Homo sapiens: one gene and its partners. The protein of the gene in region 4 interacts with the protein of the main gene of each other region in a pairwise test. Each region holds a gene or a part of one and is shown on either strand. Other genes may lie near its edges.

Region 1 (3,500 bases), on a different chromosome or scaffold from region 4:
ATTTTAATATTGTATATATTATAATAGAGACAGGCTCTCACTATGTTGCCCAGGCTTATCTCGAACTCCTGGCCTCAAGCCACCCTCCCACCTCGGCCTCCCAAAGTGCTGGGATTACAGGTGTGAGCCACTGCACCCGGCCTTTAATTTTTATTACCTGTCTGTGCAGACAGCTAATGTGGGCCTTCATGGCTGGAAGGGGAAACCTACAGAGGTTTTAAGCCACATCCTGCCTCATGGGAAAGGCAGCGGGTGGCAGGCACTCGAGGTGCTGAGGACATTGAGAAAGTGATTGGGACCAGATTAAGGCAACAAATGCTGTTTCCAGGAGCTATTTTGCATTCATTATCTATTTTTAAGCTACCGTTTGTTGAGCGCTTATCCTGAGCTAGGCTGAGCCTTTGCTCTCCTGACCTAGTTAGTTCTCATTCAACCCTGTGACAAGGGATGTGGGGCTCAGAGAACGGGAGGGTCTTCCCTCAGGTCACATGGCCAGGGCATGGAGAGGCAGGACTTGAATCCAGGTCAATGTGACCCCAGAGCCTGAGTGTGGAAACCCCGTCCTTTGCTTTCTTACGTCCCTATAGAGAGAGAGGTGCTATGGCTCACGCTTATAATCTAAATACTGGGAGGCTGAGGCGGGAGGATCGCTTGAGCCCACGAGTTCAAGACCAGCCTGTGCAACATAGTGAGACCCCATCTCTACAAAAAACTTTTTAAAAATTACCTAGCTGTGGTGGTGTGTGCTGGTAGTCCCAGCTATTTGGGAGGCTGAGGCAGGAGGATGGCTTGAACCCAGGAGGTCGAAGCTGCAGTGAGCTGTGATTACTCCACCGCACTCTAGCCTGGGCAACAAAGACCCTGTCTCAAAAACAAAAAGAGGTGCTAAGTATATGGCCAGTGCTTAGAAAAACAACCTCTTGGAACACTTGAATGGTCCCTATTTGTTGGGGGCTCTGCAACCAATGGCAGTCTGTATGGAACAGAGAGGAATATTTGCCCCCCTTCTCTCCAGTTCCAGGGGCTCAGTACCCGCTCCATGCCCTTGGTGCCATAACCACTCTGCCTCCTCACTCATGCCCCAGCCCTCTCCTCCAGGCCAACTGATCAGCCTCCTGGCCCCACCTTGGGGGTATCCAATGCACTGGGGGCCGGTGGGGTCGGGGGTGAGAGTAGAAATTAGAGACCGAGAATTTTCTTCTGGAAACTCAGACATCTGATCATGTCTGGGTGAAGGCACAAGCTCTAAGGGGGCCGACCAGAGCCACCCATAGTTTCCAAGTCCTGAGCAGTCCTACACCAGGCACTGAGGAAAGGGTAGGTGGGACCTTGCCCTTCGGGAGCTCACAGTCTGATGAGAGAGGTACAGCTTTGCCCGTGGAGTAGCCTAATGGGGGAGGCAGTATGCATGAACCCTTGGAAGGATGCCCCGAGGACCCTGTCTGGAGATCAGCACTGTTTAGTGGTTGGGGCACAAGCTTTGGAGTTTCACAAGGGCCGAAGTGTGACCCTCATCTCTGCTGCTTATTAGCAGGTGACCTTGCATAAGTGATTTATCCTCTCTGAGCCTCCGTTTCCCTATCTGTAAAATGGGCATAACATGTACTTTGCAGGATTGTTGTGTGGGTTAAATGAGAGATCATGGGTGAACAGGCCTAGGACAGACAGTACCTGACACAGTACTGTCACACCTGCTCAGTAAACAGTGGCGGCAAATCACTGCAGGCCAGACTTTGGCCATTAGGACCACAGGTGAGGTACCTAATCCAGCAGAGGCCAATCTGGGCAGGTTGCTTGTGGGAGGTGAGGCTGGAGCAAGATGTTCCCAGAGGCCAGGTCACAGGATGGGAGGGAGCCTGGGGAAGGAAGTGGGGAGGAGCTGGGGTGTGTGGAAGTCCTGGGGAGGAGCCCATTTTCTCTCTCCATCCTTGCACGGGGAGAGAAAGGGACCCCCTTGGATAGCTCTGAGCTGAGCCAACCCACAGATGAGCTATTGTCACGGCTCAGGTGACCTGTAAACAAATGTCCTGGGGAGGAGGGGACACTCAGTCCACTCGAGGCCTGGCCTCTGCCAAGCTCTGTGGCCTGCTCCCCTGGCAGTGACTCAACAGGCAGAGCGGCCAAGGACTCACCCTCAAGGGCTTCCCTCTGCGGAGCCTCCAGAGCCAGCTCCAGCCCTGGGGACAGGACCAGAGGAGTGGCTGACCAAGATGTGTCCCATTGTCCAGAGAGAGACACTGAGGGGAGAGGGGTGGAGCGGCTGCTGCTTACGGACTGCTTGCTGTGGCAGGTGCTTCCTCCTTGCTGCAGCCCTTTCTGGGCTGGTATTATTTCACAGATGAGAATCCAAGGCTCACAGGGGCTAAGTCCCATGCCCACCCCCTGCAGCGGAAAGTGAGAAGCGGGGACTTAAACCCAGCTCAGGGACCGTAAGAGGAATGCCTTGGCCGCTTACGTTCTCTTCAGAGCCAAGGGCAGAGCCCGGCACATCACAGCTGGGCAGTACACACCCGGGCAATGGTTGGCTAGAGGGGCCGCATCGGCTGCAGGTGCCCTGAGAAGCTGAGCAGAGAAGCCCGAGGCTGGCCGGGGAGGAGCATGAGGGGACGCTTTGACCCCAGGCTGCTGCTCAGTTTCTGTGTGGTTTTGAGAGGATATTTACCCTCCCTGGGCTGCTGCAGAGTCAAACACGGTCCCTCTCTGCCCTCTGGGGTGCAGAGCCCTGGGAGGCACTCTTGGGGTAGATGGCAACCATGGTGACTAATGGGTTGGGACACGGAGCCCCAGAGAACAGCTTAAAGGAGTTGGAAGGCCCTGAAGCAGACGAGAGGAGCCTGAGGGGTTGTGCTGCAGACTCACCCAAGGATCAAGTAGAGAAGACCAACCAGTATGGGAACTGCAACAAGAGGGGTTTAGGCTAGACATCAGGAGGAACTGTCTGGGAGGTTAGACTCTAAAGCAGATTGAAGAGGAGCTGGCATAGGAAGGCAGGAAGCACCCTCAAGATGCAGAGGAGAAGCTCTGGTTGAAGACAGAGGGATGGAGGAGACATCTGGTTGACACCCTCTCCTTGAAGAATCAAGATGGCCCTCTCCAGGTTGCCATGGCAGCCAGAAGCCTGTCACTCTTGTGGACAGAGGAGGTGGGGGAGGGAGCAGGTCTGAGAAGGGAATTCTGACCTTGAGGTCAGGAGACTAGGGTGTGGACTGAAAGAAAGGGGGTGTCCTTCTGGGAGAGGGAGCCACAGGAGCAGGTGCTAGCGGTCCCTTCGGGCTGCCTCCCAGCCCCCACCCCACATGACACTCTGTGTTTTTCCAGTTGCCAGTGGTGACGTGACCACCAGTCCCAGCTGGGCGAAGAACAGCCTGTGATTTCACCCTGGGCTGGTTCATTACCTGACGTCCCCATGGCAACCAGCCTGTGACATCATGGGGCCAAAGTCCTCAGGGGGAGCAGGCAGCTTTGGTGGAGGCACCTGAACCCCAACTGAGGTGGGGAGC
Region 2 (3,500 bases), on a different chromosome or scaffold from region 4:
CTTACTATCTGCCTCTTTACAGAACAAGTTTGCAAATCTCTGGTGCAGAAAGTTTAGATAATATATATGATGATGATTTCATATTCATATAATTGTAAGTAAATTATAAATAAATAAAACTTTGGACCCAATAAACAGAATACAGATTCTATTCAAGTAGCTGCATAAACATTAGTAAAATTAACTATGTATGAAGATACAAAGTAAAGCTCAATAAATTTTTAAAAGTACATCATATAGACCATATTCTTAGATTGGAGTGAATAGAAGTACAAATTAATCATAAAAACTATCCACTTAAGAAAAAACAAAGCACTTCTAAATAATTCTTGGGATAAAAAAATTAAACTGAATTTTCAAACCAGTTAGAAATAGCAATGAAAACACACACACACACACACTCACACACATGCACACACACACACACACACACACGCCTTTGGGAGTTGAAAGCTAAATGTTATTGAGAAGAAAATATATAAATAGACTTAAGTGTGATATTAAAAAGTGAGAAAGATCAGAAATAAATAAAACTTCCAAGTCAAGAGTCTCAGAAAAATCTAAAATAATTCAACAGAAGGAATAAATGCATAAATTAGTGAAACAGAAAACAAGAAATAAAACAAAAACTGACAGTTTTTGGGGGATCATTGTATAAAATTCCCAAATACATAGAAAAATATGGAACATTACCTAATTCATTCTATAAATAGCACAGAAACTTTTTAAAATCAAAGAAAAAACGATGTGCATGTGTGAAGAGAGAAGGTTAAATAAAATCAGTTGAAATGTGTTTTTTTTAAAAAACATAAAAAATTTTAACAAGTCATGGCTAGGTGGTGTTTATACTGGTTATCCAAAAATAGTTTGAAATTCAAAATTAGGAAAAAGATTAATATAATTCATTAACAAATAGGAGAAAAGCTTTATAAACACAATGATATGTGCTGAAAAAGCCGTGGAAGACATTTAACAACCATTCCTGTTGTTGAATATCAAGAAAAATAAGAAAAAGTCTATAAACTGATAAAATGTTTCCATAAGAAATATATAGCAAGCCTCATAATTATTAAGCAGATATCTAATTAAGAGATAAGTTGGACATAGATCCTATTATCACTGGCAATCTTCAACATTATTCTAGAATACATTATCAAACACATTTAAAAGTAAAATAAGAGAATTATATATTTGAAAAAAAGGCAGCACATCCTCAGTCTTTCTTTTAAAATAGATGGTATAATAATTTCCCAGGAAAATGTAAGATAAATGACTGAACAACCATTGGAATGAATAAAAAAGATCAGGGTGGTGATTAGATACAAGAATGAAATGAAACAGTCTCTTTCTTATTGATCATCAATAAGCAGTTTGAAAATCCAATGCGAAAAAAAGAACCTGTTCACAATTCTAACAAAAGTTGTAAAATATCAAATAATATATTTAACAAGAAATGTGTAAGAATTCTATGAAGAAAAACCATTGGCAGACATAAAGGAAGATCCACATATCCAATTAAACAATGAGCAAAGGACCTGAATAGATATTTTTCCAAAGAAGAAATAAAAATGGCCAAAAGGTATATGAAAAGGTATTCAACACCATTAATCATCAGGGAAATGCAAATCAAACTATTATGAGATACCACTCACAAACAGATGGCTATTCTCAAAAAGTCAAAAGATGGCAAATGTTGGCCAGGGTATGGAGAAAAAAGAACCTTTATACACTGTTGGTGGGAATGTAGATTGTTACAGCCATTACAGAAAATAATATGCAGGTTTCTAAAGGAATTAAAAATAGAAATACCACATGACACAGGAATCCTTCTTCTGGGCATACACAAAATAAATGGAATTACCACTTCGTAAAGATCTCTGCACTCGTATGTTCATTGCCACAATATTCACAATTCACAATAGCCAAGAGGTGGAAACAACTTAAGTGTCCATCAATGGATGGACACCAATGGAATAAAGAAATTGTGAAATATGCACACATACACAACAGAATATTAGTGAGCCTTAAAAAAAGGAGATTCTGCTATTTGTCATAGCATTGATGAATTGGAAGGACATTATACCAAGTTAAATAAGAAAGAAACATATTGCATGATCTCACTTATAGGTGGAATCCTCTTTTGTCATTTAAAAAGGTCAAATATGTAGATACACTGGTGATGAGAGGCAGGAAAGGGGGTGAAAATGGGGACATGTAGGTTAGAGAATATGAAGTAGCAGATATGTAAGATGAACAAGCCTAGAGATCTAATGTACAACATAAGAACTATCGGTAATGAAATTGTATCGTATTTAGGATTCCTGTTGCAAGAGTAAATTTTGGCTGTTCTTGCCACAAAAACAAACAAACAAAAATGTGTAACTGTGTGAGATAATAAATATGTTAATTTGCCTCACTATAGTAACCATTTTACTAACTATTCATAACCCATAACATAATATTGTACACCTTAAATATGCACAATAAAATTTATTTTTAGAAAAGAAAGCCTATATAAATGAAGATAAATATTATGTCAGTTTCCCCTAAACTGTAAATTCAATGTAATTCAAATAAAAATTCTGATATAATTATTCAAGCTAATTAATAAGATGATGTTAACATTTATGGGATAGAACACTCAAGACAATTTTGGAAAAACAAAATAGGAGGGGTGTGTGGTGTCTCACACCTGTGGTCCCAGCACTTTGGGAGGTCCAGGTAAGAGAATCACTTGGGACCTGGAGTTGCGAACAACCTGGGAAACATGAGAGAGACCTGGTCTCTATAAAAATTAAAAGTTGTAAAGAAAAAAAAAAACAGGAGGGAAGATTTGTCTTGATAGATGTGGTGTCTTATAGAGTAACAATAATTAAATTTGTATGATGTTGGTAAAGAAGATAGGGCTGGGTGCGATCGTTCATACCTGTGATCCCTTTGGGAAGCTGAGGCAGGAGGACTGCTTGAACCCAGGAGTTTAAGACCAGCCTGGGCAACATAGGGAGACCCTGTCTCTACAAAAATTTAAAAATCAGCCAGATGTGGTAGCACACATCTGTCGTCTCAGCTACTCAGGAGGCTGGGGCAGGAGGATCACTTTGGCCCAGGAGGCCAAGGCTGCAGTGAGTTGTGATCACACTACTGCATGCCAGCCTGGACAACAGAAGCAGAATGAGACCCTGTCAAAAAAAAAAAAAAAAAAAAAAAAGAGAAGAAAGGAAAGGAAGAAGAAAAAGAAAAACAAATAGGTCAAAGGAGTAGATTAGAAAACCCAGAAACAGGCTCCTGCACCTAAAAGAACTTCCTATATGAGCAATGGGGCATTTCAAATCATCCAAAACAGACTATTCGACTCAAAGAATAACAACCTATTTGGTACAAAATAAATATGGATCCCCAACACACCAAATACATGAATAAATTTGAGACAAATTAAAGATAGATATCAATATTTTTAAATGTAAAGATAATAGAAAAATGAAGAATATATTTTACAATTT
Region 3 (3,500 bases), on a different chromosome or scaffold from region 4:
TAATTTAAAAAATTAGCCTGGTGTGGTTGTGCATGCCTGTACTCCCAGCTACTTGGGTGGCTGAAAAAGGAGAATTGCTTGAACCTAGGAGGCGGAGGTTGCAGTGAGCCAATGTCGCACCATCGCATTCCAGCCTGGGCAACAGAGCAAGACTCCGTCTCAAAAAAATAAGAAGAAAAAAAAAAGAACAGTTTAAAAAAGGCTGAAAAGTTAACAGTCTTAGGGACCCTATAGGACAATATCAAGTGATATGACGAACATGTCTCAAATCAGAGAAGGAAAAAGGAATGAAGTGGGAAGAGAAAGAAATCATGACTAAAATAAGAAGTCTCCAAATTTAATCGAAAAAAAATTCAATCTACAGATTCAAGAAGCTTGGTAAATCCCAAAAGCAGCCAAACGTAACACACACTGTGTGATTCCTTTCATATAAAGAATAGGCAAAATAAACCTATGGTGTAGAAACGAGAGAAGAGGTCATCTATTTGACTAGGAAGGTTTATTTAAGTGTATACATTTGTTAAAACTCACTGAATTGTACACTTCTGGTCCATGCATTTCACTGTATGTAGATTTTACATCAAGTTAAAAAACTACCTTTAGCAGAATGTCTTAAAAGGGTATTCATTAGTTTAAGGATATTATCTAACATATCGATATTAATAGACTTTTTTTCTCTCTTTTTTTTAAAACGGAGTCTTGCTCTGTTGCCCAGGCTGGAGTACAGTGATGGGATCTCGGCTCACTGCAACCTCCGCCTCCCAAGTTCCAGCAATTCTCCTGTCTCAGCCTCTGAGTAGCAATTACTTTTACACCAACCTAATACTTGGGTCAAAAGCACTCTAATTGGCTGGGCACGGTGGCTCACACTTGTAATCTCAGCATTTTGGGAGGCCAAGGCGGGCGGATCACTCGAGGTCAGGAGTTCGAGACCAGCCTTGCCAACATGGGGAAACTCTGTCTCTACAATACAAAAATTAGCTGGGCGTGGTGGCACGTGCCTGAGACACAAGAATCGCTTTAACCCAGGAGGCAGAGGTTACAGTGGGCCGAGATGGTGCCACTGCACTCCAGCCTGGGTGACAAAGCAAGACTGTCTCCAAAAAAAAAAAAGCACTCTAATTAATCCAGGGTACAAACAAATTACTATTCAATGTAAACAAAATTCATGGCATGGATCATTCTAAGATCCTAAGAACACTCACCTTGTTTGTTCAATTTTGTCCCAACTTCAGGGAGACTACAATAAACAACATCTCCCAACGCTTCCTAAATAAAACAAGACAAAACCAAAAATCTCTAAGAAGTTATAACTAAACCCTCCAGTAAACAGAATAAGCCAAACACTGAATCCCCTATAATGAAGATTTAGTATATATTTTATACTGGAGGGGCTACATTCTTGAGTTTTCCTTAAAATCCTTTAAACATGTAAAAACTACTCTCAGTCAGGTGTGGTAGTTCACGCCTGTAATCCCAGCACTTTGAAAGGCCCAAAGTGGGTGTTATCACATGAGGTCAGAAGTTCGAGACCAGCCTGGTTGACATGGTGAAACCCAGTCTCTAATAAAAATACAAAAATTAGCTGGGTGTGGTGGCAGGCACTTGCAATCCCAGCTACTCAGGAGGCTGAGGCAGGAGAATCACTTAAATCTGGGAGGCAGAGGTTGCAGTGAGTTGAGATTGCACCTGTATACTCCAGCCTTGGCGACAGAGCAAGACTCCATGTCAAGAATAAAAATAAATGGCTGGGTGCGGTGGCTCATGCCTGTAATCCCAGCTCTTAGGGAGGCAGAGGTGGGAGGATAGCTTGAGCCCAGGAGTTTGAGACCTGCCTTGGCAATATAGCAAGACCCTGTTCTCCAAAACTAAGTAAAATAAAATGATTTTAAAAAACTATTCTCAACTCAGGAGCTGCAAGAGACCAGCCGCCAGCCAGATCTGGCTCACAGGCTTTAGCAACCTAACACAAGCCTCCTGCCCCACACAAGACTGCTAGCTCTTTGTTTTATTTGGTTTTGAGACAGAGTTTCTCTCTTGTTGCCCAGGCTGGAGTGCAGTGGCCTGATCTCAGCTCACTGCAACCTCTGCCTCCCAGGTTCAAGCGATTCTCCTGCCTCAGCCTCCCAAGTAGCTGGGATTACAGGTGCCCACCACCATGCCTGGTTAATTTTTTAAAATTTTTTGCTAGAGATGCAGTTTCACCATGTTGGCCAGCTGGTCTTGAACTTTTGACCTCAGATAATCAACTTGCCTCGGCCTTCCAAAGTGCTAGGATTACAGGTGTGAGCCACTGCGCCCGGCAAACACTGCTAGCTCTTCTGGGCATGAACATATTTGGTGTTCTTCCACCTCTGTAGTTTTATGTACACCATTGCCCCCAAAGCATTTGCTGAAATCCTGCTCACTGATTCTACAAATCATAGTCCTCACACCTTGTACTCCCTGAAGTCCCTGACTCCAGAAAGAAGTGGTCTCTCCATCAGGTAAGTGAATTACAACCCCACCGTTCCGATGCCATCATGTAATGTTTGCAAGTCATTCTCATGTAGGTAATTCCCCTCACAAATAAACTCTAGGAGGTAAGGACGACATCTTACACAACATCTCAAAAACTATCCAACACTGGGCCTCATAGTAGGTATACAGAGATGCCAAGGAAGATATAATTGTGATTATCAACACACAAGCATCTTACATGTCTGAGGAATTTTGTACAGTCACGTGCCGCCTAATGGCATTTTGGTCAACAACAGACCACATATATGACAGTGGTCCCATGAAATTATAATATAGTTAGTATCACTTGTCCAAAATGCTTGGGAGCAGAAGTGTTTTGGATTTCAGATTTTGGAATACTCGCATTATACTTAATACATGAGCACTCCTCATCCAAGATTCTGGAATCCAAAACGCTCCAATGAGCATTTTCTTTAAGAGTCACGTTGGTGCTCAAAAAGTTTCAGATTTTTGGAGTATTTCAGGGATTAGAGATGCTCAACCTATGCCATATTTTTACTGTACCTTTTCTGTGTTTTGATAGGCCAAGTGTGTTACGATTGCCTACAGTATTCAGTACAGTAACATGCTGTACAGGTTTGTAGCCCAGGAGCAAAGGCTGTACCATACAGCCAAGGTGTGTAATAGGCTGTACCATCTAGGTGTGTGTAAGGGCACCCTAGGAGGCTCACAGAAGGACGCAATCCCCGAGGAGGCAGTTATCAGAACATAGCTCCATCATTAAGTGACACGAGTGCATTCCCATCAGTTAACATCCCCCCTTCCCCGCCTCACCCAATACATACATCCAGTTGAAAATCACTGAACACGCTAGGATTTGGCTTCTCATTTTCTCTTAAACAGTATCGCCATATGGAATTGAGGGGAATTTACAGAGAAAAGATGGGCTGAATAAAAGCCTTCCCTTTGTGTCATCTGTGCCTATTGAGGTTTTCTTTCTTCCCGTCCTCCTGGTCACGTGTGTATCACTGGACCCACAA
Region 4 (3,500 bases):
CAAAGCGAGACTCTGTCTCAAAAAAAAAAAAAAAAAAAGGTGTAACTGAGAAATTAGTTGGAAGCTCCTTGTGTCTGAGCAGGACTTGTGAGTTCAGGGGCTTCACTTTAGGGTAATCTAGGGACAAGTCTGCTTTTTCATTGATGGAGAGTAAGGCACAGGTCTCAGAATCTGGAGATGTGTTAGTTTTTATTGTTTTCTGAGAAGACTTTTCCAGTCTCCTGCCTGAGAGGTACCATCTAGCTACCAGAATTTTGGAAGCGGGACAGCAGAAGTGGCGTGAATACCCTGTCTGACAGGGTTGGAATTCTGTGTGGTCCACTTTCCTTTGGTATCCACTCTGAAGTTTTTCATTTCCTCAAACCTGTTAGGCCACTTCATTTTCCTTTCTTGTAAAACCTGTGGAAATCCCTCATGTCCTATAATCGCTTCTGTCATCTCTTTAACCTTATGGTTCGTTCCTTTGTATTCTTTGCTGCCACCTTAGAAGGTCAATCTACATGTTTAACTGGGAGTCAACACCTAATAATTTTTGTTTTTCTTGGACTGTTTTTTTTTTTTTTTTTTTTGAGATGGAGTTTCGCTCTTGTTGCCCAGGCTGGAGTACAGTGGTGCGATCTTGGCTCACTGCAACCTCCGCCTCCTAGGTACAAGTGATTCTCTTGTTTCAGCCTCCCAAGTAGCTCGGATTACAGGCATTCGCCACCATGCCAATTTTTTTTTTTTTTTTTTAAGTAGAGACAGGGTTTCACCACGTTAGTCAGGCTGGTGGCGACCTCCTGACCTCAGGTGATCCACCTGCTTCGGCCTCCCAAAGTTCTAGGATTACAGGCATGCGCCACTGTCCTCGGCCATGTTTTGTATTTGATTATCATTATATTCATTATATTCCAACTTATAAGCAAGTTTATATTCATACATGTCCTTATTGAAAGCAAACCTGTGTCCTAGTTTTTCCAGTATATGTGTATTTTATCTGTGAGGTTACAGACGTTGTTTTAGAGGCTGGAGATAGAATGGAGAGAAGATCAGATGTGATTCCTGTTTCCATGGAATTTATATTTTAGTGGGGAAGGCAGACATGTACAAATAGGTAGAATGCTGGTATAGAGTATATAACAGAAGGGAGTCCTTGACCATGAAGGACATTCCACAGGATCATTATGACAGAAACCCAAGGCGGTGACACATTGATTATAGCAGTATTTCACGAAAAATCACTATTTGAATACTCCATTTGATTTATTTATAGAAATAATCACTTATGATGACCTCTGTTACTTGGAGTGTAGTATCAGAAAAACTAGGACATCGGTTTGATGTAAGTAAGGATTATTCGTTTTGTATGGATAAACTGGCTAATTCCTTGTCTGATTGTCATTGAAATATGTGACCTTGATTATAAGGGTGACTTCATTCTTTTAGAATGAAACAACTTGTAAATGCATCACCGTTACTCAACACAGGATGTGTTCACCCTGTTAGCTTGCCTCCACCATTTACTTAAATCTTACTCTTCTGTCTTACTACTTGTATTAGTTTCCTAGGGCTGCTGTAACAAAGTACCACAAACCGGGTGGCTTAAAACTAATAGAAGTTTATTCTTTCACAGTTTTAGAGGCTAGAAGTCTGAAATCAAGGTGTCATCCTCTCCCTGAAGGCTCAGGGGAGAATCTGTTCCATGCCTTTCTCTTAGCTTCTGATGTTGCCAGCAATCTTTGGCAATTCTTGTAGATACATCACTCTAGTCTCTGCCTCTGTCATCACATTGCATTCTCCTCTTTATGTGTATCTGTCCCTGTATCTCTTCTCTTTTAAGAAAGACACAAATCGTGTTGGATTATGGGCCCACCCTACTCCCATGTGACCTCATCTTAACTTACATCTTAATTACTTCTGCAAAGACCCTGTTTTCAGATAATGTCACATTCGCAGGTAGCAGGGGTGAGGATTTCAGCAAATCTTTTTTGGGGAACACAATTCAACCCACAACACTGCTATTCCTGGCACTAAAAGAAAAATAGTAATAATAATAATAATTTAAAAAACTATGCCATAATTTATTCAGTTCCTAATGAATATTTTTGATACAAATTATCACCAATTGAAAATGAAAAATGGGCTCAGGCACAGTGGCTCACGCCTATAATCCCAGCACTTTGGGAGGCCGAGGTGGGCAGATCATTTAAGGTCAGGAGTTTAAGACCAGCCTGGCCAACATGGGGAAACCCCATCTCTACTAAAAATACAAAAAGTAGCCAGTTGTGGTGGTGCATTCCTGTAATCCCAGCTACATGGGAGGCTGAAGCAGGAGAATCGGTTGAACCCGGGAAGTGGAGGTTGCAGTGAGCCTAGATTGCACCACTGCATTCCAGCCTGGGCAACAGAGCGAGACTGTCTCGGAAAAAAAGAAAAAGAAAAAGAAAAAATGAAAACTAGGCAAGGTGCAGTGGTGCCTGTCTGTAGTCCCAGCTACTTGGGAGGCCGAGACAGGAGAATTGCTTGAGGCCAGGAGTTTGAGATTACAGTCAGCTATGAGAACACCACTGCACTCCAGCCTGAGTGACAGAGTGAGACCCTATCTCTACACACAAAAAAAGGCACTTTGGGAGGCTAAGGTGGATAGATCAGTTGAGCTCAGGAGTTTGAGACCAGCCTGAGCAATATAGCAAGACCCTGTCTCTACAAATAATAAAAAATAAGCTGAGCATGGTGGCACATACCTGTGGTCCCAGCTACTTGGGAGGCTATGGTGAGAGGACTGCTTGAGCATGGGAGGTTGAGGCTGCAGTGAGCCGTGATGGTGCCGCAGTACTTCAGCCTGGATAATAACATGAGACCCTGGGTGACAGCGTGAGAAAGAAAAAAGGCCAGGCATGGTGGCTCATGCCTGTAATCGTAACACTTTGGGAGGCTGAGGTGGGAGGATCACCTGAGCCTGAGGAGGTCGAGGCTGCAGTGAGCTGCGATTGCACTGCTGCATTCCAGCCTGGGTGACAGAGGGAAATCCTGTCTTTTTTTTTTTTTTTTCTGAGACAGAGTCTTGCTCTGTTGCCCAGGCTGCAGTGCAGTGGTGTGATCTCGGTTCACTGCAACCTGCCTCACGGGTTCAAGTGATTCTTCTGCCTCAGCCTCCTGAGTAGCTGGGATTGCAGGTGCCCACCACCATGCCTGGCTCATTTTTGTACTTTTAGTAGAGATGGAGTTTTCCCATGTTGGGCAGGCTGGTCTTGAACTCCTGACTTCAGGTGATCTGCCCGACTCAGCCTCCCAAAGGGCTGGGATTACAGGCGTGAGCCACTGTGCCTGGCCAGAAATTCTGTCTTTAAAAAAAAGAAAAGAAAGAAAATGAAAACTACACACAGTAACACTGATAACCATAAAAATTAATCTGAGGAAAAATAAGAAATCTTGGCCTCTACTGGTGTTTTTGTGAAGGGAAGTTGAAGGTGCTGAAGCATCTAGACATGAAGAAAGAACCAGGCACAACTTCTGAGTGT

The links. The genes of interacting proteins can lie anywhere in the genome.
Region 1: the proteins of SFI1 (region 4) and FAM131C interact in a two-hybrid assay, tested with the Homo sapiens proteins (one large-scale study listed by BioGRID).
Region 2: the proteins of SFI1 (region 4) and LPXN interact in a two-hybrid assay, tested with the Homo sapiens proteins (one large-scale study listed by BioGRID).
Region 3: the proteins of SFI1 (region 4) and GCSH interact in a two-hybrid assay, tested with the Homo sapiens proteins (one large-scale study listed by BioGRID).

The regions. Positions count from the first base shown.
Region 1 is NC_000001.11:16,067,152-16,070,651, reverse strand, and holds part of FAM131C (protein FAM131C), read left to right. Parts: intron 1-3,500.
Region 2 is NC_000011.10:58,555,357-58,558,856, forward strand, and holds part of LPXN (leupaxin), read right to left. Parts: intron 1-3,500. UniProt on the Homo sapiens protein: Transcriptional coactivator for androgen receptor (AR) and serum response factor (SRF). Contributes to the regulation of cell adhesion, spreading and cell migration and acts as a negative regulator in integrin-mediated cell adhesion events.
Region 3 is NC_000016.10:81,086,396-81,089,895, forward strand, and holds part of GCSH (glycine cleavage system H protein, mitochondrial precursor), read right to left. Parts: intron 1,270-3,500; coding exon 1,206-1,269; intron 1-1,205. UniProt on the Homo sapiens protein: The glycine cleavage system catalyzes the degradation of glycine. The H protein (GCSH) shuttles the methylamine group of glycine from the P protein (GLDC) to the T protein (GCST).
Region 4 is NC_000022.11:31,503,036-31,506,535, forward strand, and holds part of SFI1 (protein SFI1 homolog), read left to right. Parts: intron 1-3,500. UniProt on the Homo sapiens protein: Plays a role in the dynamic structure of centrosome-associated contractile fibers via its interaction with CETN2.